Homo sapiens: one gene and its partners. The protein of the gene in region 3 purifies or fractionates together with the protein of the main gene of each other region. This does not show direct contact. Each region holds a gene or a part of one and is shown on either strand. Other genes may lie near its edges.

The links.
Region 1: the proteins of MMUT (region 3) and CSTF3 fractionate together in Homo sapiens (co-fractionation; one large-scale study listed by BioGRID). This does not show direct contact.
Region 2: the proteins of MMUT (region 3) and DHTKD1 fractionate together in Homo sapiens (co-fractionation; one large-scale study listed by BioGRID). This does not show direct contact.

What each region holds. Positions count from the first base shown.
Region 1 is NC_000011.10:33,105,954-33,109,612, reverse strand, and holds part of CSTF3 (cleavage stimulation factor subunit 3), read left to right. Parts: intron 1-1,194; coding exon 1,195-1,227; intron 1,228-1,612; coding exon 1,613-1,710; intron 1,711-3,548; coding exon 3,549-3,615; intron 3,616-3,659. UniProt on the Homo sapiens protein: One of the multiple factors required for polyadenylation and 3'-end cleavage of mammalian pre-mRNAs.
Region 2 is NC_000010.11:12,120,795-12,123,721, forward strand, and holds the end of DHTKD1 (2-oxoadipate dehydrogenase complex component E1), read left to right. Parts: coding exon 1-94; 3' UTR 95-2,427; downstream 2,428-2,927. UniProt on the Homo sapiens protein: 2-oxoadipate dehydrogenase (E1a) component of the 2-oxoadipate dehydrogenase complex (OADHC). Participates in the first step, rate limiting for the overall conversion of 2-oxoadipate (alpha-ketoadipate) to glutaryl-CoA and CO(2) catalyzed by the whole OADHC.
Region 3 is NC_000006.12:49,435,754-49,439,412, reverse strand, and holds part of MMUT (methylmalonyl-CoA mutase, mitochondrial precursor), read left to right. Parts: intron 1-3,659. UniProt on the Homo sapiens protein: Catalyzes the reversible isomerization of methylmalonyl-CoA (MMCoA) (generated from branched-chain amino acid metabolism and degradation of dietary odd chain fatty acids and cholesterol) to succinyl-CoA (3-carboxypropionyl-CoA), a key intermediate of the tricarboxylic acid cycle.

The DNA of each region.
Region 1 (3,659 bases), on a different chromosome or scaffold from region 3:
CAAAGTAGGTATTATTATCCCCCTTAATCAGCTGAGGGAAAAAGAGGTTAAGTAGATAGCCAGATTGTGAACCTAAGAGGTCTGACTCCAGAGCCTTGATTGAACTGCTTCAAAGTACAAAGAGCTGTGTTTAAGTGTGTGCTAAAATTTATGAACTCTAAAGATCAAGATAAAAAAGTCCAGAAGAGAACAAGTTATCAGCAAAAGCAAAAAAGACTGTCATCAGCATTCTCACCTGCAGTAGTTTAAGCCATAAAACTGGGAATACTACTCTATTACTGTACTACTTGAGATAAAAGGACCAAAACTTCTCTAATCAGCCAAAATATTTATTTACCTATCTGGGTGAAACAGATTTGCTGATTAACACAGTTGAGCACCTAACCCCACCCACTCTGTGATGAAAATACTCAAAGAAAAGAGAAATCTAATAGTATTTAATCTTGGTCTTTGCACATGCTATTTCTCCTGCCTGGAATAACTCTTCCCTTTCTTCAGCAAATAGCTCAGATTCTCCTAGAAAAAGTTATCTTTTTCCCGGAAATCTTTTGCAATTCCCCAAGTCTAAGTCTTTTGCTCTTCCAAAATGCTGTAGCACCCAGTACTTTCTTCATTTTAGCACTTAACCATAATATCTTACAATGACCTTCCACTTCGTTGTCTTATTTTCCCCATAAGATTGTAAGCTCTATGAGGGCAGGGGCAGACCTGTCTTGTCACAGTGGTAGCCCCCACGCCTAGCACAATATCTGCAATATATTAGGTTGATGGTGTGACTGAATGTTTATATGTAGTCCAAATTTGCATATCTTTTTTGCCGCTCAGATTGTTCTGGTAGCTATACAGGGAAAGGAAAGCCTTAAGTTTTTCTTCAGTGGATACATCCTATTCAGGTAGACCTATCGGGTATGTGTATATTTCTGTATTCATCTCATGACTTTTACAGAATTTTATTAAATTCACAAAATTTATATGTAAATGTATGAAAATCCATATAGATTCAATTTACACAGGTATATTTACAATGCATTTTATCCATGTTTGCTTCACACTTCTGTTATTTTTGAAAGTAACAGAAAAATTAATAAGAAACTATAGGGATGAATTTGCAAAGTTGGTTAAAAATTGGTCAAAAATTCAGACTGATGCTCTAAAAAAATAGTATTAATTCTATATTTTTCTGTTTCTCTTCAGATTAAAGCTAAAAATTATGACAAGGTTGAAAAGGTGAGTCCTCAAATACTTTGAATTTTATATTGAAGTTTAACTTAAAACCTAGTATGTATAAGACAGATGTAGTAAAATGTTAATAATAATTGAATCTAGATAGTGATTTTTTACAAGTTAATTGTACTTATTCAGCTTTTTTATATGCTTGAAAATGTTCATCATAAAAGTTTTGGAAAAGGAAAAGAAAATAATTATACTCCCCTGACAAATCATGAGAAGCATTTTAATTATCTAAACTGAAAATGGGGAAATTATTTGCTTTTTATTTATAAGAGATAAATTCATAAAGGGAGCTGAATTTGTGTTTTTAATGTTCCATTTCATCTATGTCCATGTGAAATTTATTTAACTGGATTCTGATAATATATTCTTGTATTTAAAGCTATTTCAGAGATGCCTTATGAAGGTTTTGCACATTGATTTATGGAAGTGTTATCTTTCATATGTCCGAGAAACCAAGGGTAAACTACCAAGTTACAAGTAAGTGAAACCAGGATCTTAAGAATGCAAGTCATCTCCAGGCACACAGTTAATCCCACATAAACTCACACCTTCTGTTAGCCCCAAGTGGGAAGAATTATCAGGATTTGAAAAGTCAGGATTTCCTAAGAATTAGTAACCTTGAAAAAAGTGCTTCAGAGAAAGTCACTGGCATGAGTCTTACTCTGGAGAATTGAATCGCCCAAGCCCTTTCTATACTGAAACACTGTATAATTGCAACACCAAACCACTTTGTTGACAGACTTGTCAAATTTTTTCAAAAACCATCTTCATACTTGTGCTAGTACCACTTTTGTGAGGTCACAATGCAATGTGCTACTTAAGTGATCTAAGGGGTCTCTGACATTTGTAGTGATATAAGGGATCTCTGACAATTGTATTGTGAAGTTGCCATCCCCACTCCGAATTATACCCACCTCCCCATCTTTGCCAAATCTAAATAATGGACCTTCTTCTGAGGTGCCATTTTTCTATGTAACTAACAGGCAAGTTATGTCTGTTACTAAAATTCTGTCTTTATTGTCTTTTCCTGATTATACTTTTTGTTATGATTTTTGTGTTTTGAGACAGAGTTTCAGCTCTGTCGTACAGGCTGGAGTGCAGTGGCACAATCACGGGTTCACTGTAGCCTCAACCTCTTGGGCTCAAGTGATCCTCCCACCTCAGCCTTCCAAGTAGATGGGACTACAGGCAAGAGCCACCACACCTGGCTGATTTTTTTTCTATTTTTTTGTAGAGATGGGGTCTCCTTATGTTTGAGACTCCAAACGTAGCAGGGTCTCAAGCATAAGTTAATGTCCCTAGGCTGGTCTCAAACTACTGAGCTCAAGCAATTCTCCTGCCTCAGCCTCCCAAAATGCTGGAATTACAGGCATAAACCACCACACCTGGTCTGTTTATTGTCTTATATTGAAGTGGAAGTTCTTTTTCCCTAATGTACCCTTTACATTTTAACATAAGTTGCATTTTAATAAAACTATACTTTCCAGATTTCTACATTTTACTTTAGAGCTAAAGATCTTAATGTCTCATTAATGAGAGAACCACAAATTTCCACATTTGAATCTGCTATGTATAGAATTATGCAACTTAAATGATATAAAGATAAGTAAGACATGAGCCTTATTTTTGATAAGCTCACAAGCAGTAGATAAAGGAAACAATTTATGATCTTGACAAGCTTAACATCAAAGAACGACTTTATATACTTAAAAGATGTCTTTAATTTATGTTTATAGAGAATGTTCAAGTGTTGTTCTGATCCTGTGATCAGAAGCTACATTTTAGTTATATATACATTTATTATTTATTTATTTATAGAGACGAGGTCTCACTGTGCTGCCCAGGCTTGTCTCCGACTCCTGGCCTCAGATGATCCTCCTGCCTCAGCCTCCCAAAGCATTGGGATTCCAGGAATGAACCACCACGTCTATCTTCAAATAATAATTTATTTTTAATTTTTTTTAGAGACAGGGTCTTGCTCTGTCACCCAGGCTGAAGTGTAATGGTGCATTCATAACTCACTGTAACCTTGAAATCCTGGGCTTAAGCACTCCTCCCACCTCAGCCTTCCGAGTAGCTAGGATTACAGGTGCACGCCACCATGCCCAGCTAATTTTTTTAATTTTTATTTTTTTAGAGACTGGGTTTTGCTATGTTGCACAGGCAGGTCTTGAATTCCTGGTCTCAAGTGATCCTTCTGCCTCGGCCTCCCAAAGCAGTGGGATTACAGGCATGAGCCACCATGTCTGGCCTAATTGTAGATAAATTTTAATAACAAAAAAATTTAAAAACCACGTCTTTCATGTTCATTTCAGAGAAAAAATGGCTCAAGCATATGACTTTGCACTGGATAAAATTGGAATGGAAATTATGTCCTATCAGGTAGAGTTAAAACTTTTTAATGTATGCACTTAAATGTAAGAATA
Region 2 (2,927 bases), on a different chromosome or scaffold from region 3:
GGTGGGCCGGCCCCCTTTGCCAGTACCCGCTGTAGGAATTGGCACAGTTCACTTGCACCAGCATGAAGATATCCTCGCCAAGACCTTCGCTTGATGATGACTTTTGAAGAAACACTATTTCTCTTTAAGAAAATGGCCATTAAGGCCGGGTGGGGTGGCACATGCCTGTAATCCCAGCACTTTGGGAGGCCAAGGCTGGTGGATCACCTGAGGTCAGGAGTTCGAGACCAGCCTGGCCAACACGGTGAAACCCCGCCTCTACTAAAAATACAAAAAATAGCCGGGTGTGGTGGTGGGCACCTGTGATCCCAGCTTCCTGGGAGGCTGAGGCAAGAGAATCGCTTGAATCTGGGAGGCGGAGGTTGCAGTGAGCCAGGATCACACCATTGCTGTCCAGCCTGGGTGACAGAGCAAGACTGCGTTTCAAAAAAAAAAAAAAAAAAACCCATTAAAAGAGGCCTCCTTCCTCCACTCTCTCAACCCCTCTGTTGGGTAACATGAAAAGACTGTATTCCTCTAAGATGTTGGGATTGATATACGTGATTTAATCTGCAATAGGTGGAATAACCAGGGGAACTGGTTATGAATATGTGAATGCAACCAGCAAATTTATCCTTGAAGGTGTGATGGTAGAAATAGGAAAACAACAAAAGAAAAACAATAACAAAAAAAGAAAGTGTGATGGCTGGGTGCAGTGGCTCACGCCTGTAATCCCAGCACTTTGGGAGGCTTAGGCGGCTGGATCACCTGAGGTCAGGAGTTCAAGACCAGCCTGGTCAACGTGGTGAAACGCCGTTTCTACTAAAAATATGAAAATTAGTTGGGTGTGGTGGCATGCGCTTGTAGTCTCAGCTACTCCGGAGGCTGAGGCAGGAGAATTGCTTGAACCTGGAAGGCAGAGGTTGCAGTGAGCCGAAATGGCGCCACTGTACTCCAACCTGGGCGACAGAGCAAGACTCCATCTCATAAATTAAAAGGAAAGTATGATAGTGTTATGGATTTTAGCTCTGAGTGAGCTGGAAAACTAGGTCATTATCTAGATGATTTCAGACTTGACCCTAATTGACCATATATGACCAGGAAACACTTCTGAGTTTACAGCTCCGTGGAGATGACCTCAACACTGCCTCTTGATTTGTTTGATGCATGTCACTTTCATTAATTTTCCCCCTCCTTTTTGAAAGTCCTGTGGCAGTACTAATATTTTCATTTTATGTAATCTCTGGTGCTGCTTTCCAGTCACTGTATGAAGTGTCTCCCCAACACTAGCAAATCTAGGTCCTACTAAATACAAATCTCTGGGTGGATGATCTTCTAGTACTGTATTTTTAAATTAAGGAGTTTTAGTTATAATGAAATTGATTTGTAGTCTGTTTTGCCGTAAACTTGTTTTTCTTTAAATTGTTCTTACAGTGATATCTTACTATTTTTAACTGTCTGGGGTTTCTGATATGGGGATTTCAGCCCCTGGTTAATCAGTCTTGTCCCTACAAGTCCCTGATGCAGTATGTTTATTTGTGATGTTTAAAGAACATTTCTTGGCTGGGCGCTGCGGCTTGCGCCTGTAATCTCAGCACTTTGGGAGGCTGAGATGGGTGGATCACCTGAGGTTGGGAGTTCGAGACCAGCCTGACAAAACATAGTGAAACCCCGTCTCTACTAAAAATACAAAAATTAGCTGGGCGTGGTGGTGGGTGTCTGTAATCCCAGCTATTCGGGAGGCTGAGGCAGGAGAATCGCTTGAACCCAGGAGGTGGAGGTTGCAGTGAGCTGAGATCCTGCCACTGCACTCCAGTCTGGGTGACAGAGCAAGACTCCATCTCAAAAAATAAATAAATAGAAAGAGAGAGAGAGGAAAAAAAAAGAAAAGAACACTTCTTTATTTGAGGGACTTTCCCAACACCAGGTGCTTGGGGATTTCTTAGAGATCACCAACCGACTCCCTCACTGTGAAATTAAACCAAGTACTGGAAACGTAACTAAACAGCGAACCATGTAGCTTCACCTGACTCAGTGCTGGGGGCCTCTACCATCTACTGTGCTTGTGTCATGATGCTTTTTCTCTGAAGTGGTGTGGGAAGTACCAGGGGACTGGCAGAAGCCCAGGCCCTCTCTACTTTTACCAGCAACTGATCATGTCTTTCAGAATCCATGTACATATAGGCTGTTCTAGCCACAGTGGTAGATTTATGATTCACATCCGAAAGTGTGCCTTAGTTATCAATTTAACATTTCTCTAGTATTCATATCCCTTTTCTTACCATATACCTCAGTGTATCCTTCCTGTGTCAAGCCTTATAAATCATGTAATTTAGTGCCACTCATGTAAATCAGTAAAATCACAAAGGTCTATTTAATGAAAACGATTTACCAATGTTGTTTTTTTTTAACAAGAAAAAAAATAAAAGCACATTGTCATTTTTTTTCCTCAGGACTCCTGGACTTCTTGAATTAAAAGATTTCAAAAGTCTAAGCACAAAAATGAGATGGAAGATTAGATCTTTGTAAAAGGTTAGTTTAGGCTGGGCGTGGTAGCTCACGCCTGTAATCACAGCACTGTGGGAGGTCAAGATGGGTGCATCACCTGAGGTCAGGCATTCGAGACTAGCCTGGCCAACATGGCTAAACCCCGTCTCTTACTAAAAATATAAAAATTAGCAGGGCATGGTGGTGCATGCCTGTAATCCCAGCTACTTGGGAGGCTGAGGCAGGAGAATCACTTGATCTCGGGAGGCGGAGGTTGCAGTGAGCCGAGATTGCACCACTGTACTCCAGCCTGGGTGACAGAGCGGGACTCTGTCTCAAAAAATAAAAGGTTACTTTAAATCTCTCCGAATTTCTTTTGAGACAGAGTCTCACTTTGTCGCCCAGGCTGGAGTGGTGCGATCTCAGCTCACTGCAACCTCCACCTCCTGGGTTCAAAAGAT
Region 3 (3,659 bases):
ATGATGTTTGGAGCCTTTGGCAGGCCCCCATAGGTGAGTCACAGCAGAGGCCTCTAAGATTTTGGAGGAAGGGCCTGCCATCTTCTGCAGATAACTACTCTCCTTTTGAGAGACAGCTCTTGGCCTGTTACTGGACTTTGGTGGAAACTGAATGTTTGACTATGGGTCATCAAGTCACCATGCGACCAGAACTGCCTATCATGAACTGGGTGCTTTCTGACCCATCTAACTATAAAGTGGGTCTTGCACAGCAGCATTCCATCATCAAATGGAAGTGGTATATATGTGGTCCAGCTTGAGCAGGTCCTGAAGGCACAAGTAAGTTACATGAGAAAGTAGCTCAAATGCCCATGGTCTCCACTCCTGCCACCCTGCCTTCTCTCCCTCAGCCTTTATATATATATATGTAAGGGGGAGTTTATTAAGTGTTAACTCACATGATCACAAGGTCCCACAATAGGTCTTCTGCAGGCTGAGGAGCAAGGAGAGCCAGTCCGAGTTCCCAAACTGAAGTATTTGGAGTCCAATGTTCAAGGGCAGGAAGCATCCACCACGGGAGAAAGATGTAGGCTTGGAGGTTAGATCAGTCTCTCTATTCACATTTTTTTGCCTGCTTATATTCTAGCCACGCCTGGCAGCTGATTAGATGGTGCCCACCCAGATTAAGGGTGGGTCTAGCCCTTTCCTAGCCCACTGATTCAAATGTTAATCTCCTTTGACAACACCCTCACAGACACACTCAGGGTCAATACTTTGTATCCTTCAACCAAGTTGACATGGAGTATTAACCATAACACATATAGTCCAATTAATTATGATAGAAATAAAAATAAAATATAATTAATCTTTCAGACTTTTAAAAGTGTCAGTTCAGAACTAAAACTGATTATGCCTCTGGAACTATGAAGATTACTTTCAAAGATCTTATTGTACTCTTTATTGAGATTTGACTAATATTTTGTGGGAAAGATAGCCCACATGGGATTGGTGAAAAGTGTTTTGAAAAAGAAATCAAATAGCAATATAAACTCAATTCATAAGTAAGGTTATTTTCGTTTATTTTTGTTGTCTTTTTTTAACTCTCTACTAATATGTTACTTAGTCACAGAATATTAGACTTAGACAGGAAAATAGTTTGCAGGAGATAAATTACACTGACATTTTCCATAGAATGATAATACAAAAAAATTTGACTAGAAAGTACATTGTAATAATTTTATATGAAAAGCCTTCTCTACTACATATGTATTGATCATCTACCAGATGCTAGGCTCTGAGTTGAGTAGGATACAATTTTGTCCTCGAGGTTACAATCTCCTAACAAAGAGAGATTTACTTACTTGTAATTACATCGTATGAAATTTACTATGTAAATTATTACTATTTCGTACATAGTATGAAAATTACTATAACTAAATTACTATAACTTTATACTATACTATAACTATAGTATAAAATTACTATAACTAAAATATGGACAAAGAGGGCACCTCACTTGTTACAAGAAACCCAGAAACTTATATTTGTTGATCCTTAAAACTTATGTTTGTTTCAGAAGCACAGTGCCATTCACTTTCTAGTAAAATCACTCTCTGAAGTGGATGGAGGAGAGCTGCAACTAGATTCAAGCAGTACGGTGAAGAAAAACAATGAGAAACAACGAAGACCTTAACTAGGGCAATGTCAGGGTCTCAAGAGAAACCAAATCTCAGCTAGGATTTTGAAGAAAATTTAATGGAGGGACTACTTACAGATATGTAGGCAGGATTGCTAGAACCACTAAGGAATAATGAGGCCTCCAGGAATTAAATTTTTAAGAATTTCAAAAGCCAGTTGTTTTTCATGGTGTGAAATGGTGTCTCATTTGTTTAAGTTCCTTGTAGATTCTAGAGAGTAGACCTTTTACTATTGCCTAAAACCAAAAGTGATAAGTACTAAAAACTTATCACTCCCTATATTTATATATTTTATTATCTGCTTTTTAGGTTATTTCCATCTATTTTTTCTATATGGTAGTGATACTGTATAATTGTGTGGCTATTGTGTGTCTTTTTTTCTGCTTTGCATTTAGTAATGTCATGTTAATAGGGTGAAATTGGCTATGGTTGGAATATTCACAACATAAAAATCAGCAAACACTAAAAATTAGGGATTGAGTTATTGTTTTCAGAAAATTTGATGAAAAATGTAAATAATCAGAACAAAGTTCTCTGAGGGAAATAATGTAACGATGAATATTAAATTTAAAAGTTTCTGATATCTGTAGGCATTACATTAGGAAGACCCCCCAACATTTGAGGAAACATTCTTTTAGTATTCAAAAAAATATTATTTTTTGTTTGTTTTTTTAACTTTTATTTTAAGTTCAGGGGTACATGTGTAGATTTGTTATATAGGTAAACTTGTGTTGTTAAGCCTAGTACCCATTAGTTGTTTTTCTGACCTCCCTCCTCCTGCTCCTCTACCCTCTGATAGGCCCCAGTGTGTGTTGTTTCCCTCTTTGCCTTGTTTGTGTCCATGTGTTCTCATAATTTAGCTCCCAATTATAAGAAAGAACATGTGGTATTTGGTTTTCTGTTCCTGTATTAGTTTGCTAAGGGTAATGGCTTCCAGCTTCATCCATGTTCCTGCAAAGGACACGATCTCATTCTTTTTTTCTGGCTGCATAGTATTCTTTAGTGTGTGTGTATCACATTTTCTTTATCCAGTCTATCACTGATGGGCATTTAGGTTGATTCCATGTCTTTGCTGTGGTGAATAGTGCTACAATGAACATACATGTGAATGTGTATTTTTTTTTTTTTTTTTGAAACAGAGTCTCGCTCTTTCATCCATGCTGGAGTGCAGTGGTATGATCTTGGCTCACTACAACCTCCACCTCCTGGGTTCAAGTGAGTCTTCTGCCTCAGCCATATGAGTATCTGGTACTACAGGCACGTGCCACCATACCTGGCCAATTTTTGTATTTTTAGTAGAGATGGGTTTCACCATGTTGGCCAGGCTGGTCTCGAACTCATGACCTCAAGTGATCCACCCGCCTCTGCCTCCCAAAGTGCTAGAATTACAGGCATGAACCACCACGCCCAGCTGCAAGCATGTTTTTATAATAGAAAGATTTCTGTTCATTTGGGTATATGTACGGTAATGGGATTGCTGGGTTGGGAGGTATTTCTGTTTTGAGGTCTGTGCGGAATCACCACACTGTCGTCTACAATGGTTGAACTAATTTACACTCTCACCAACACTGTATAAACGTTCCATTTTCTCCACAACCTTGCTAGCATCTGTTATTTTTTGACTTTTTAATAATAGCCATTCTGACTGGTGTGAAATGGTGTCTCATTGGGGTTTTTATTTGCATTTCTCTAACAATCAGTGATTTGGAGCTTTTTAAAAATACGATTGTTGGCCACATGTATGTCTTTTTTGGAAAGTGTCTGTTCATGTCTTTTGCCTGCTTTTTAATGTTTTTTTGTAAATTTGTTTAAGTTTTTTATAGATGCAGGTATTAGACCTTTGTCAGATTCACAGTTTGCAAAAGTTTTCTCCCATTCTGTAGGTTATCTGTTTACTGTGTTGATAGTATCCTTTTCAGTGCAGATGCTTTTTAGTTTAATTATATCTCATTTGTCAATTTTTGCTTTTGTTGTAATTGCTTT